Linked DNA regions of Homo sapiens: region 2 is reported to be linked to region 1. Evidence: microRNA targets listed by miRTarBase, many of them from high-throughput screens and not tested one by one. Region 1 holds a microRNA gene; the other region holds the end of a gene's coding sequence. Distances are between the middles of the regions.

Evidence for each region. Region 1 holds the annotated microRNA hsa-miR-4722-5p (GGCAGGAGGGCUGUGCCAGGUUG, at 1,309-1,331, shown strand). A microRNA usually pairs through its seed, bases 2 to 8, with sites in the 3' UTR of a target mRNA and lowers its output. Matches are read on the target gene's strand: a 7mer-m8 pairs with bases 2 to 8, a 7mer-A1 pairs with bases 2 to 7 and ends in A, and an 8mer does both.
Region 2: miRTarBase lists ZNF500 as a target of hsa-miR-4722-5p. Seed matches in the 3' UTR shown: 7mer-m8 at 3,063-3,069 and 7mer-m8 at 968-974.

The regions. Positions count from the first base shown.
Region 1 is chr16:88,713,850-88,717,645 of GRCh38, reverse strand. It overlaps MIR4722 (microRNA 4722), which reads left to right and starts at 1,309; the gene lies at 1,309-1,368. It overlaps CTU2 (cytosolic thiouridylase subunit 2), which reads right to left. Exons shown (of 15, transcript NM_001012759.3): 10 at 3,419-3,510; 11 at 3,160-3,263; 12 at 2,909-3,059; 13 at 2,720-2,786; 14 at 2,540-2,598; 15 at 2,250-2,464. The coding sequence ends at 2,395. It overlaps PIEZO1 (piezo type mechanosensitive ion channel component 1 (Er blood group)), which reads left to right. Exons shown (of 51, transcript NM_001142864.4): 45 at 435-623; 46 at 748-840; 47 at 915-1,087; 48 at 1,163-1,285; 49 at 1,369-1,448; 50 at 1,527-1,713; 51 at 1,792-2,308. The coding sequence ends at 2,041.
Region 2 is chr16:4,748,750-4,753,755 of GRCh38, forward strand. It overlaps ZNF500 (zinc finger protein 500), which reads right to left. Exons shown (of 6, transcript NM_021646.4): 6 at 1-4,309. The coding sequence ends at 3,627. It overlaps DNAAF8 (dynein axonemal assembly factor 8), which reads left to right. Exons shown (of 10, transcript NM_139170.3): 10 at 1-647. Among named protein-coding and RNA genes, the nearest start is that of ZNF500, 16 kb to the right of the region's middle.

The DNA of each region.
Region 1 (3,796 bases):
GGTTTACTTTGTTTCCTTCGCCAAATCCAGGTTCATGAAGATTTGCCCGTTTTCTTCTAAAAGTTCTATAGTTTTAGCTCTGAAGTTTCGCTCTTTGATCCACTTTGAGGTAAATTTTGGCACATGGTATGAGGCAGGAGTTGCGTTTCATTCTCCTGCCTGGGGCGGTGCCTGCACCGTGTTGAAAAAGGTTGTCCGTTCCCACTGAACGGTCACAGCTCCCTTGTCTAAGATCAACGACCCCTGAACATGAGGGTTCCAACTGGACTCTTAGTTCTACTCCACTGGCCTGTGTCTGCCCACCATTACTACCGCTGTGCCATACTGAGGTCAGGCTGGGGCTTTTCTGGGCTGCTGGGTGAGCTGGAGAATGCGGTTGTGTGACCCGCAGGAAGGGCAGAGCTGAGCGTATGACCTGTGTCGTTCCCCTCCAGAAATACCCGCAGCCCAAAGGGCAGAAGAAGAAGAAGATCGTCAAGTACGGCATGGGTGGCCTCATCATCCTCTTCCTCATCGCCATCATCTGGTTCCCACTGCTCTTCATGTCGCTGGTGCGCTCCGTGGTTGGGGTTGTCAACCAGCCCATCGATGTCACCGTCACCCTGAAGCTGGGCGGCTATGAGGTGAGCATGTGTGGGTCCGCCTGTCCATTCCCATCCCCTGGGGGTTCTGGCCAAGGTGGTGCACCACCCCCAGCCGCTCCTCCACGCTCATCTTCGTGGCCCCGTGTCCCCGTGCCTGCCCCAGCCGCTGTTCACCATGAGCGCCCAGCAGCCGTCCATCATCCCCTTCACGGCCCAGGCCTATGAGGAGCTGTCCCGGCAGTTTGACCCCCAGCCGGTAAGTGGCCTCTGCCCTGTGAAAGCTGGTGTGGGGAGGCGGCTGCAGTCACTGAGGGTGTCACTTGTACCCAGCTGGCCATGCAGTTCATCAGCCAGTACAGCCCTGAGGACATCGTCACGGCGCAGATTGAGGGCAGCTCCGGGGCGCTGTGGCGCATCAGTCCCCCCAGCCGTGCCCAGATGAAGCGGGAGCTCTACAACGGCACGGCCGACATCACCCTGCGCTTCACCTGGAACTTCCAGAGGTTCGTCCTGGACTTGGGGCAGTGCCTGGGTGGGTGGACCCACTACAGTGGGTCACGCTGTGTTCCCACCCCCAGGGACCTGGCGAAGGGAGGCACTGTGGAGTATGCCAACGAGAAGCACATGCTGGCCCTGGCCCCCAACAGCACTGCACGGCGGCAGCTGGCCAGCCTGCTCGAGGGCACCTCGGACCAGTCTGTGTGAGTGAAGGGCCCGGGTGGTGGGCAGGAGGGCTGTGCCAGGTTGGCTGGGCCAGGCCTGACCTGCCAGCACCTCCCTGCAGGGTCATCCCTAATCTCTTCCCCAAGTACATCCGTGCCCCCAACGGGCCCGAAGCCAACCCTGTGAAGCAGCTGCAGCCCAGTGAGTATGGGCGTGGGGGTTGGGGGAGGCTAGAGAGGGGTGACCTGCGGCCTCAACGATCTTCTCCCTCCATCCCAGATGAGGAGGCCGACTACCTCGGCGTGCGTATCCAGCTGCGGAGGGAGCAGGGTGCGGGGGCCACCGGCTTCCTCGAATGGTGGGTCATCGAGCTGCAGGAGTGCCGGACCGACTGCAACCTGCTGCCCATGGTCATTTTCAGTGACAAGGTCAGCCCACCGAGCCTCGGCTTCCTGGCTGGCTACGGGTGAGTGAGTGGCTGGGGGGGCACCCCGCAGCTCGGGGGGCTCCGGGCGGCCCCAGGACTCACCAGCTTCCCCCGCAGCATCATGGGGCTGTACGTGTCCATCGTGCTGGTCATCGGCAAGTTCGTGCGCGGATTCTTCAGCGAGATCTCGCACTCCATTATGTTCGAGGAGCTGCCGTGCGTGGACCGCATCCTCAAGCTCTGCCAGGACATCTTCCTGGTGCGGGAGACTCGGGAGCTGGAGCTGGAGGAGGAGTTGTACGCCAAGCTCATCTTCCTCTACCGCTCACCGGAGACCATGATCAAGTGGACTCGTGAGAAGGAGTAGGAGCTGCTGCTGGCGCCCGAGAGGGAAGGAGCCGGCCTGCTGGGCAGCGTGGCCACAAGGGGCGGCACTCCTCAGGCCGGGGGAGCCACTGCCCCGTCCAAGGCCGCCAGCTGTGATGCATCCTCCCGGCCTGCCTGAGCCCTGATGCTGCTGTCAGAGAAGGACACTGCGTCCCCACGGCCTGCGTGGCGCTGCCGTCCCCCACGTGTACTGTAGAGTTTTTTTTTTAATTAAAAAATGTTTTATTTATACAAATGGACAATCAGAGGCCAGTCCCCCGTCCTTGCCTTCCGGCTCCAGTGTGGTGTACCAGGTGGCCACTGCCTGCTGTCCCGGCAAGCACGTCCTCACGCTCAGCTCTGGCCCGCCTCGTCGTCACTGTCCTCAATCAGACAGTCCCGGATCTCCTGCAAGCCCCAGGCCCTAGAGAGAAAGCTGCAGTGGGCACCAGCCCCGAGGCCCCTTACCCACGCGCCACGGCAGTGTGGGCCCCAGTACCTCTGTGTGCGGAGCTGGGCCTCAGCCAGGATGTACGGCGGCAGGGGGTCCAGTGAGGGCTGCAACAGAGGCCGGTGTCGAGGGGCCAAGAAACCTGCCAGCACCCCCTCAAGCCACCCACGAGGTGACGGCCTTCCCGCGTCCCCAAGCCCGGCCCAGGACAGGTGGGCACGTACTCACCAAGTCCTTCATGTTCACGCGGCAGCTGTAGCACAGCTGCTCCTCAATGCAGGCTTGGGGGTCCTCCCTGCGGGAGCAGAGCTGGCTGTGTGCCCACCTTGGCACCTCAATGCCGTGCAGTGTGGGGTAAGGACAGGTCCCCCTCCCGCCCCATGCAGCTGGCCATGGGTGGCAGGGACAGGGACTCACCTCCTGCAGGCCCCCTGGCCACAGCGCTGGGCCCAGCCCACCCCTGGAGAACAGCAGGGCCCCGGGGGTGTCCGGGTCTCAGTCAGGGGGATGGGTGACTGCATCTGGGAGAGACGCGAGGAGGTCTGAGCCCCAAAAGCCGTGGCACTGTCTGCAAGCAGAGAGGGGGTGACGGAGCCTGGGGCTGCTGAGCCCCCACACCCACTCCCTGGCTCCCTCCCCGCATCACCCCAAGAGCATGAAACACAGACCAGCGGCGTCGACGTCCAGGGCACACATGCAGAGGAGGCAGCGGGGGCCGGAGTCGCCAGCAGCAGGGCCATCCCGGGGGCCCTTCACCAGCTTCTCACTTGTCCTGTGGCCGGATTGTGGGAGGAGCAGGTGAATCACACGGGCTGGGGCTCCACCCTAAGCCCTGGCCTGAGCACGAGTGGTGAGCTCACCACCCGCACACACCCGCGCACAGCACACACCCGCGCACCCCCCGCACACACCCACACACACCCACACCTGTACACAGTGCTGACAGTGGAGGGGAACTGGGTCTGCAGCCTGAGGATGAAGGCCTCCATCAGCCGGTGGATGCTGGCCTTTTCAGGGGCCTAGGGACAATCAGATTGGAGGCTATGGGAAAGCCCAGAGGCCAGCCCCAGGCTGGGGCAGAGTCCCCAGGACAGGTGCCGTGGGTTCCACGCTGCTGGCCCACATGGGTCTGGCTTTGCTGCGACTGCTCAAGGCAGCCAGAGAACCCGCTTCAGCAGTGCACCCACTGTGGGGTCCTCCTGTCACCCCCACACCCTCACGGCACAGGGTGGGCTCAGAGGATGCAGCACTGCTGGGGGCCACAGCAGGAGTCACTGAAGGTGTGCTGGTGACCTGAGCCTGTGA
Region 2 (5,006 bases), 84 Mb from region 1:
GGAAGAGCAGAGAAATCATCACCACCTTGGGCCCCACGGTGCCACGGGCTCAGGCAGCACAGTAGGGCGCCGGGCCTTTGGGACAGTGTCCCAGCTTCCCCTGGGGTTCACCCCTGGCTGCCAGGCCACTGAGGATGGGCAGGGGTCTCTTCTCATCAAGCCTTGTACCAGGCAAAAGACAGGCCCTGCTTGGCCGTGGTCACTGGCCGCCAAGATCAGGGCTACAGATGTCTGCTCTCTGGACCCCACGTGATCTGGCCACTGGGGACCCCCACCCGACCCCACTCCCAATGATGAGGGGCATTTTCATTGCAAGTCAAAGGCAAGACAGGCTTCCATAAAGTCCCAGGAGGTCCCTCCTGTAGGGCACAAGGCCAGGCTGCCTCCCAGCCCCCAGGCCCTCTCCCACCTACAGAGACCCTCCCCTGCCCCCTCCACTCCGGGGCCTGTGCCGCCAGAACCGGGCTCTGCCCCCATACGCTGCCCTCGCAGCCTGGCGGCCTCCGCTGTGGCTGCCTAGCTGTCAAGAGCAAAGGCTTTTTTTTTCTTCAACCCCATTTTCTTCCATTTCTCCCACCTTTTTAATGCCAGTAACCTCACTGAGAATGTTTTACAGTGATGGAAAATAAACTCTGTTCCAAGTTCAACTCTGAATTACTGTGTCTGTCAAGGCAAGGGGAGTGAGGTAGGAAGTCAGACCTGCGTCCAAAGCTGGCTCTGCCACCTGGGCAAGGTTTTCACGCTCCCAGTGCCCAGTTCCTCCACCCACAGAAGGAGAATCATGGCCGGGCGCGGTGGCTCACGCCTGTAATCCCAGCACTTTGGGAGGCCGAGGTGGGTGGATCACAAGGTCGGGAGTTCAAGACCAGCCTGACCAACATGGAGAAACCCCATCTCTACTAAAAATACAAAAATTAGCCAGGCGTAGTGGTGCGCACCTGTAATCCCAGCTACTCAGGAGGCTGAGGCAGGAGAATCACTTGAACCTGGGAGGTGGAGGTTGTGGTGAGCCAAGATCGTGCCTTGCACTCCAGCCTGGGTAATGAAGTGAGACTGTGTCTCAAAACAAAACAAAAAAAGGAGACTAATGGGAGTCCCCCCTCACTGGACTGCATGAGATAACATCACAGCACACGCAGGCACCTGGGACTCACAGCTCCTACAAAACTCTCCCATCACGTGAGTGCTGAGGATGACGCCCATGAGATGGGGCCAAGCAGCAGGCAGCGACCATGAGATGGGGCCAAGCAGCAGCCAGTGGGAGGCCACAGCCTCGGCAGGGGGAGGGAAGTGGGCAGACCCCAACCACACTCCCCCAGAGGCCGCCACCTCCAGCACAGGCCTGGATATGAGAGAGGGGCCTGGGGGCTCAGGCTGCGCTGGGGAGATGGGTGTCAGCAACGCTGGGTGCTTTGCTAGCTCCTGGAGTGTGGCCTGGCCACATCTAGCTGGGTACCTCATGCCCCATGAGAGATCCCAGAGCTAGTCTAGAAGGTAAAAGCCGTCCCTCAACCAGGCAGCCCCATTCTGCAGACACAGGACAGAGCACACAGGGGCCAGAAGCAATGACTTAAAAAAAAAATTGTTTATTTTATCTGAGACAGGATCTCACTCTGTCTTCCAGGATGAGTGCAGTGGCACAATCACAGCTCACTGCAGCCTCAACTTCCTGGGCTCAAGTGATCCTCCAGCCTCAGCCTCTCAAGTAGCTGGGACTACAGGCACACCCCATCATGCCTGGCTAATTTTTTTTTTTTTTGTGTGGAGTCTCGTTCTATCACCAGGCTGGAGTACAACGGTGCGACCTCGGCTCACTGCAACCTCCGCCTCCCTGGTTCAAGTGATTCTCTTGCCTCAGCTTCCCGAGTAGCTGGGACTACAGGCACGTGCCACGCCACCATGCCTAGCTAATTTTTGTGTTTTTAGTAGAGATGGGGTTTCACCATGTTGGCCAGGATGGTCTCGATCTCCTGACCTTGTGATCCACCTGCCTCGGCCTCCCAAAGTGCTGGGATTACAAGCGTGAGCCACTGCACCTGGCTTTTTTTTTTTTTTTTTTTTTTTGGTAGGGAAGAGGTCTTTCTATATTGCCCAGGCTGCTCTTGAACTCCTGGGCTCAAGCAATCCACCCGCGTTGGCCTCCCAAAGTGCTAGGATTATAGGTGGGAGCCACTGTGCTCGGCCTCTGACACTAAATAATGTCAGTTAAGGGAATGAGAAAAAGGGCAGGTCACGCACCTGGAACCTGGGCTGTGCCAAAAGGTCAAATGTGCACGTATATACAGTGACTAGGTGACAAATGCAATGGAGCATCCCAGGCTGGGATGAAGGCCAAGGCCACCTACCTATGAGGAACAACCACTGCCTGGCTGGAACGTTCCAGAACCCAGTGGTTTCCATAGCTGCCCTACGACTTCCGAGATGACTAAACCCACCAAGGACTCTATCACACTGCTTGTCTTGGCCACTCACCCACCGTGGATGTGCACAGACCAGTGGCTCCCACGCAGCACAGGCCAGACAAAAGCTGGAAGGTGAAGGCTTCTTACCTTAGAAAGACAAAGTGGGGCAACCGTGGAAGGCCACATTCCAGACACTAAGGGGCCAGGAGCAAACGCAGCCCTGGGCCCCGGCCCTGGGGAGATGTCAGGCCCGTCACATCCCAGGCAACATGTCAGGAAGATGGAACTCAGGGGTGCTTTCCCGCCCCAGGTGTCTTCCGCCCTGCAGAGCAGCTATGGATCTGCAAAGGGGACTGGAATGCTGCAGAGCCCCGGGCTCCATTTGGAAACTCTGGCAGGATGAAGAAGCTGGAGACCACGTCCTGGGAAGGCTGGGGTACAGCAGGGCTCCCTGCAGCAGACGAGGGGTCCCTCAAATTCATGTGCACCCAGACCTCAGAATGTGACCTTATTTGGAAACACGGGTTTTGATGATATAATTAGTTAAGATGAGGTCACAGTGTATTGGGGGACCCTAAACCCAGTGAGTGGTGGCCCTACCAAAAAAGAGACTGGGCATGGCGGCACACACCTGTAACCCCAGCTACTCAGGAGGATGAGGCAGGAGGAACACTTGAGCCCAGGGATTCGAGGCTGCAGTGAGCTATGATCATGGCACTGTATTCCCGCCTGGGGGACACAGCAAGGCCCCGTCTCAAAAAAAAAAGGGGGGGGGAGCAGGTGGGGGGTACACACAGAGACAGCGCACAGGGTCACAGACACACAGGAGAGGGGTTGGGACGTGGGGATGAGGCTGTATGCCAGCAGCCACTGGATGCTGGAGGCAGCTGATGGACCCTCCCAGGCCCTTCAGGAGCCAGCCCCACGAACACCTTGAGTGTCGGCTTCTGGCCTCCTGAGTGTGTCTCTGTGGCTGAAGCCCCTGCTCTGTGTCACCTGTTCTGGCTGCCACTGGACACTCAGAGCCTGTCCTTGCCCTTGTTCTGCACCCAGTGCCCAGCTTCCTCTGCGGCCTGGGCATCCCAAATGTCCCCTGCTGGCCTCATACTGGGCCATGGGAGGAAACGGGCAGCTGGCAATGCTTTCGGACCAGGCTGTCTAGCAGTTTCCTGAATTCTGTGCCCAGGGATGAGAGTCCTGGAAAGGGAGTTTCAGGCCTGGTGATCAGGCTTTGGCACCGGGGCCTCCAGGAGCCACCGGCTGGAGCGTCGGCAAGGAGCCTGCCCCCATGTGGGTCCGCTGGTGCTTGTGCAGGTCGGTGCCCCGGCGGAAGCCCCGGCCACAGGCCGGGCAGGTGTAGGGCTTCTCACCTGTGTGCGTCCGGCGGTGGGCGCTGAAGTGCGAGCTGTTGTTGAAGCGCTTCCCGCACTGGGTGCAGGCATAGGGCCGCTCCCCGCTGTGTGTCCTGCGGTGGATGACCAGGCTGGAGCTCTGGCTGAAGCGCTTCCCACACTCGGGGCACGGGTAGGGCTTCTCGCCTGTGTGCACCCTCTGGTGCGTGCTGAAGTTGGAGCGGTCGCTAAAGCCCTTCCCACAGACTAGGCACTTGTAAGGCCGCTCGCCCGTGTGTGTGCGCTGGTGCTTGGTCAAGTGGGACGTCTTGCTGAAGCCTTTGCCACATTCGGGGCAGGTGTACGGCTTGTCAGCCCCATGGGAAGCCCGTCTTCCTGGTGGGGGGCCGCCTCTTGGCTGATCAGGCCTGACCAAGCCCCTGACTGGGGCTGGCCTCTGACCTGGGAGCGGGTGGCCAGGCCCCTGGCATCGTGCCGAGAGCACTCGGTACCACTCCATTCTCAACGGGGCATCCTCCCTGCCATCACCGCCGTCCTCCAACTGGATCCCAGGTCCTGAGACAGAGAAAGCACGATCTCTAGGAACTCACAGCAAGAGGGCAAGGGAAATCCTTCTAATAGGAAAATGAAGGCCTCACAGGGCTCCTAAGGTTCCCCTACAAAACATTTAGCAGGGGCTGGGCACTGTGGCTCACGCCTATAATCCCAGCACTTTGGAAGGCTGAAGTGGGAGGATTGCTTGAGCCCAGGAGTTCAAGACCAGCTTGGGCAACGCAGTGAGATCTCGTCTCTACAGAAAATAAACAAAACTAGCTGGGCATGGTGGCGTGTGCCTGTAGTCCTAGCTACTCAGGAGGCTGAGGTCGGAGGATCACTTGAGTCTAGGAGGTCAAGGCTGCAGTGAGCTGTGATCGCGCCACTACATTCCAGCCCGGGTGACGGCATGAGACCCTGTTTCAAAAACTAAACAATCAATAAAACAAACAAAGAGGAACGCACTTGACCATCACAATAACCCAGTGGGTCAGTGCTGTTACCATCTCCATCCTGCAGATGGGGAAACCGAGGCACACAAGTGTTAAGAAACTTACCCAGAATCACCGGGCTGCTAAGTTACAGAGTGAGGGCCATCAAGCTCTGCACTCTGCTGTATCCTCTAAGCCAGGGGTTCCCACCCAGTGGCAAGGTCTGGAGACATTTTTGTTGTGTCTGGGGAGGGGGTTGTAAATGGCCTCTAGTGGGCAGGGGCCAG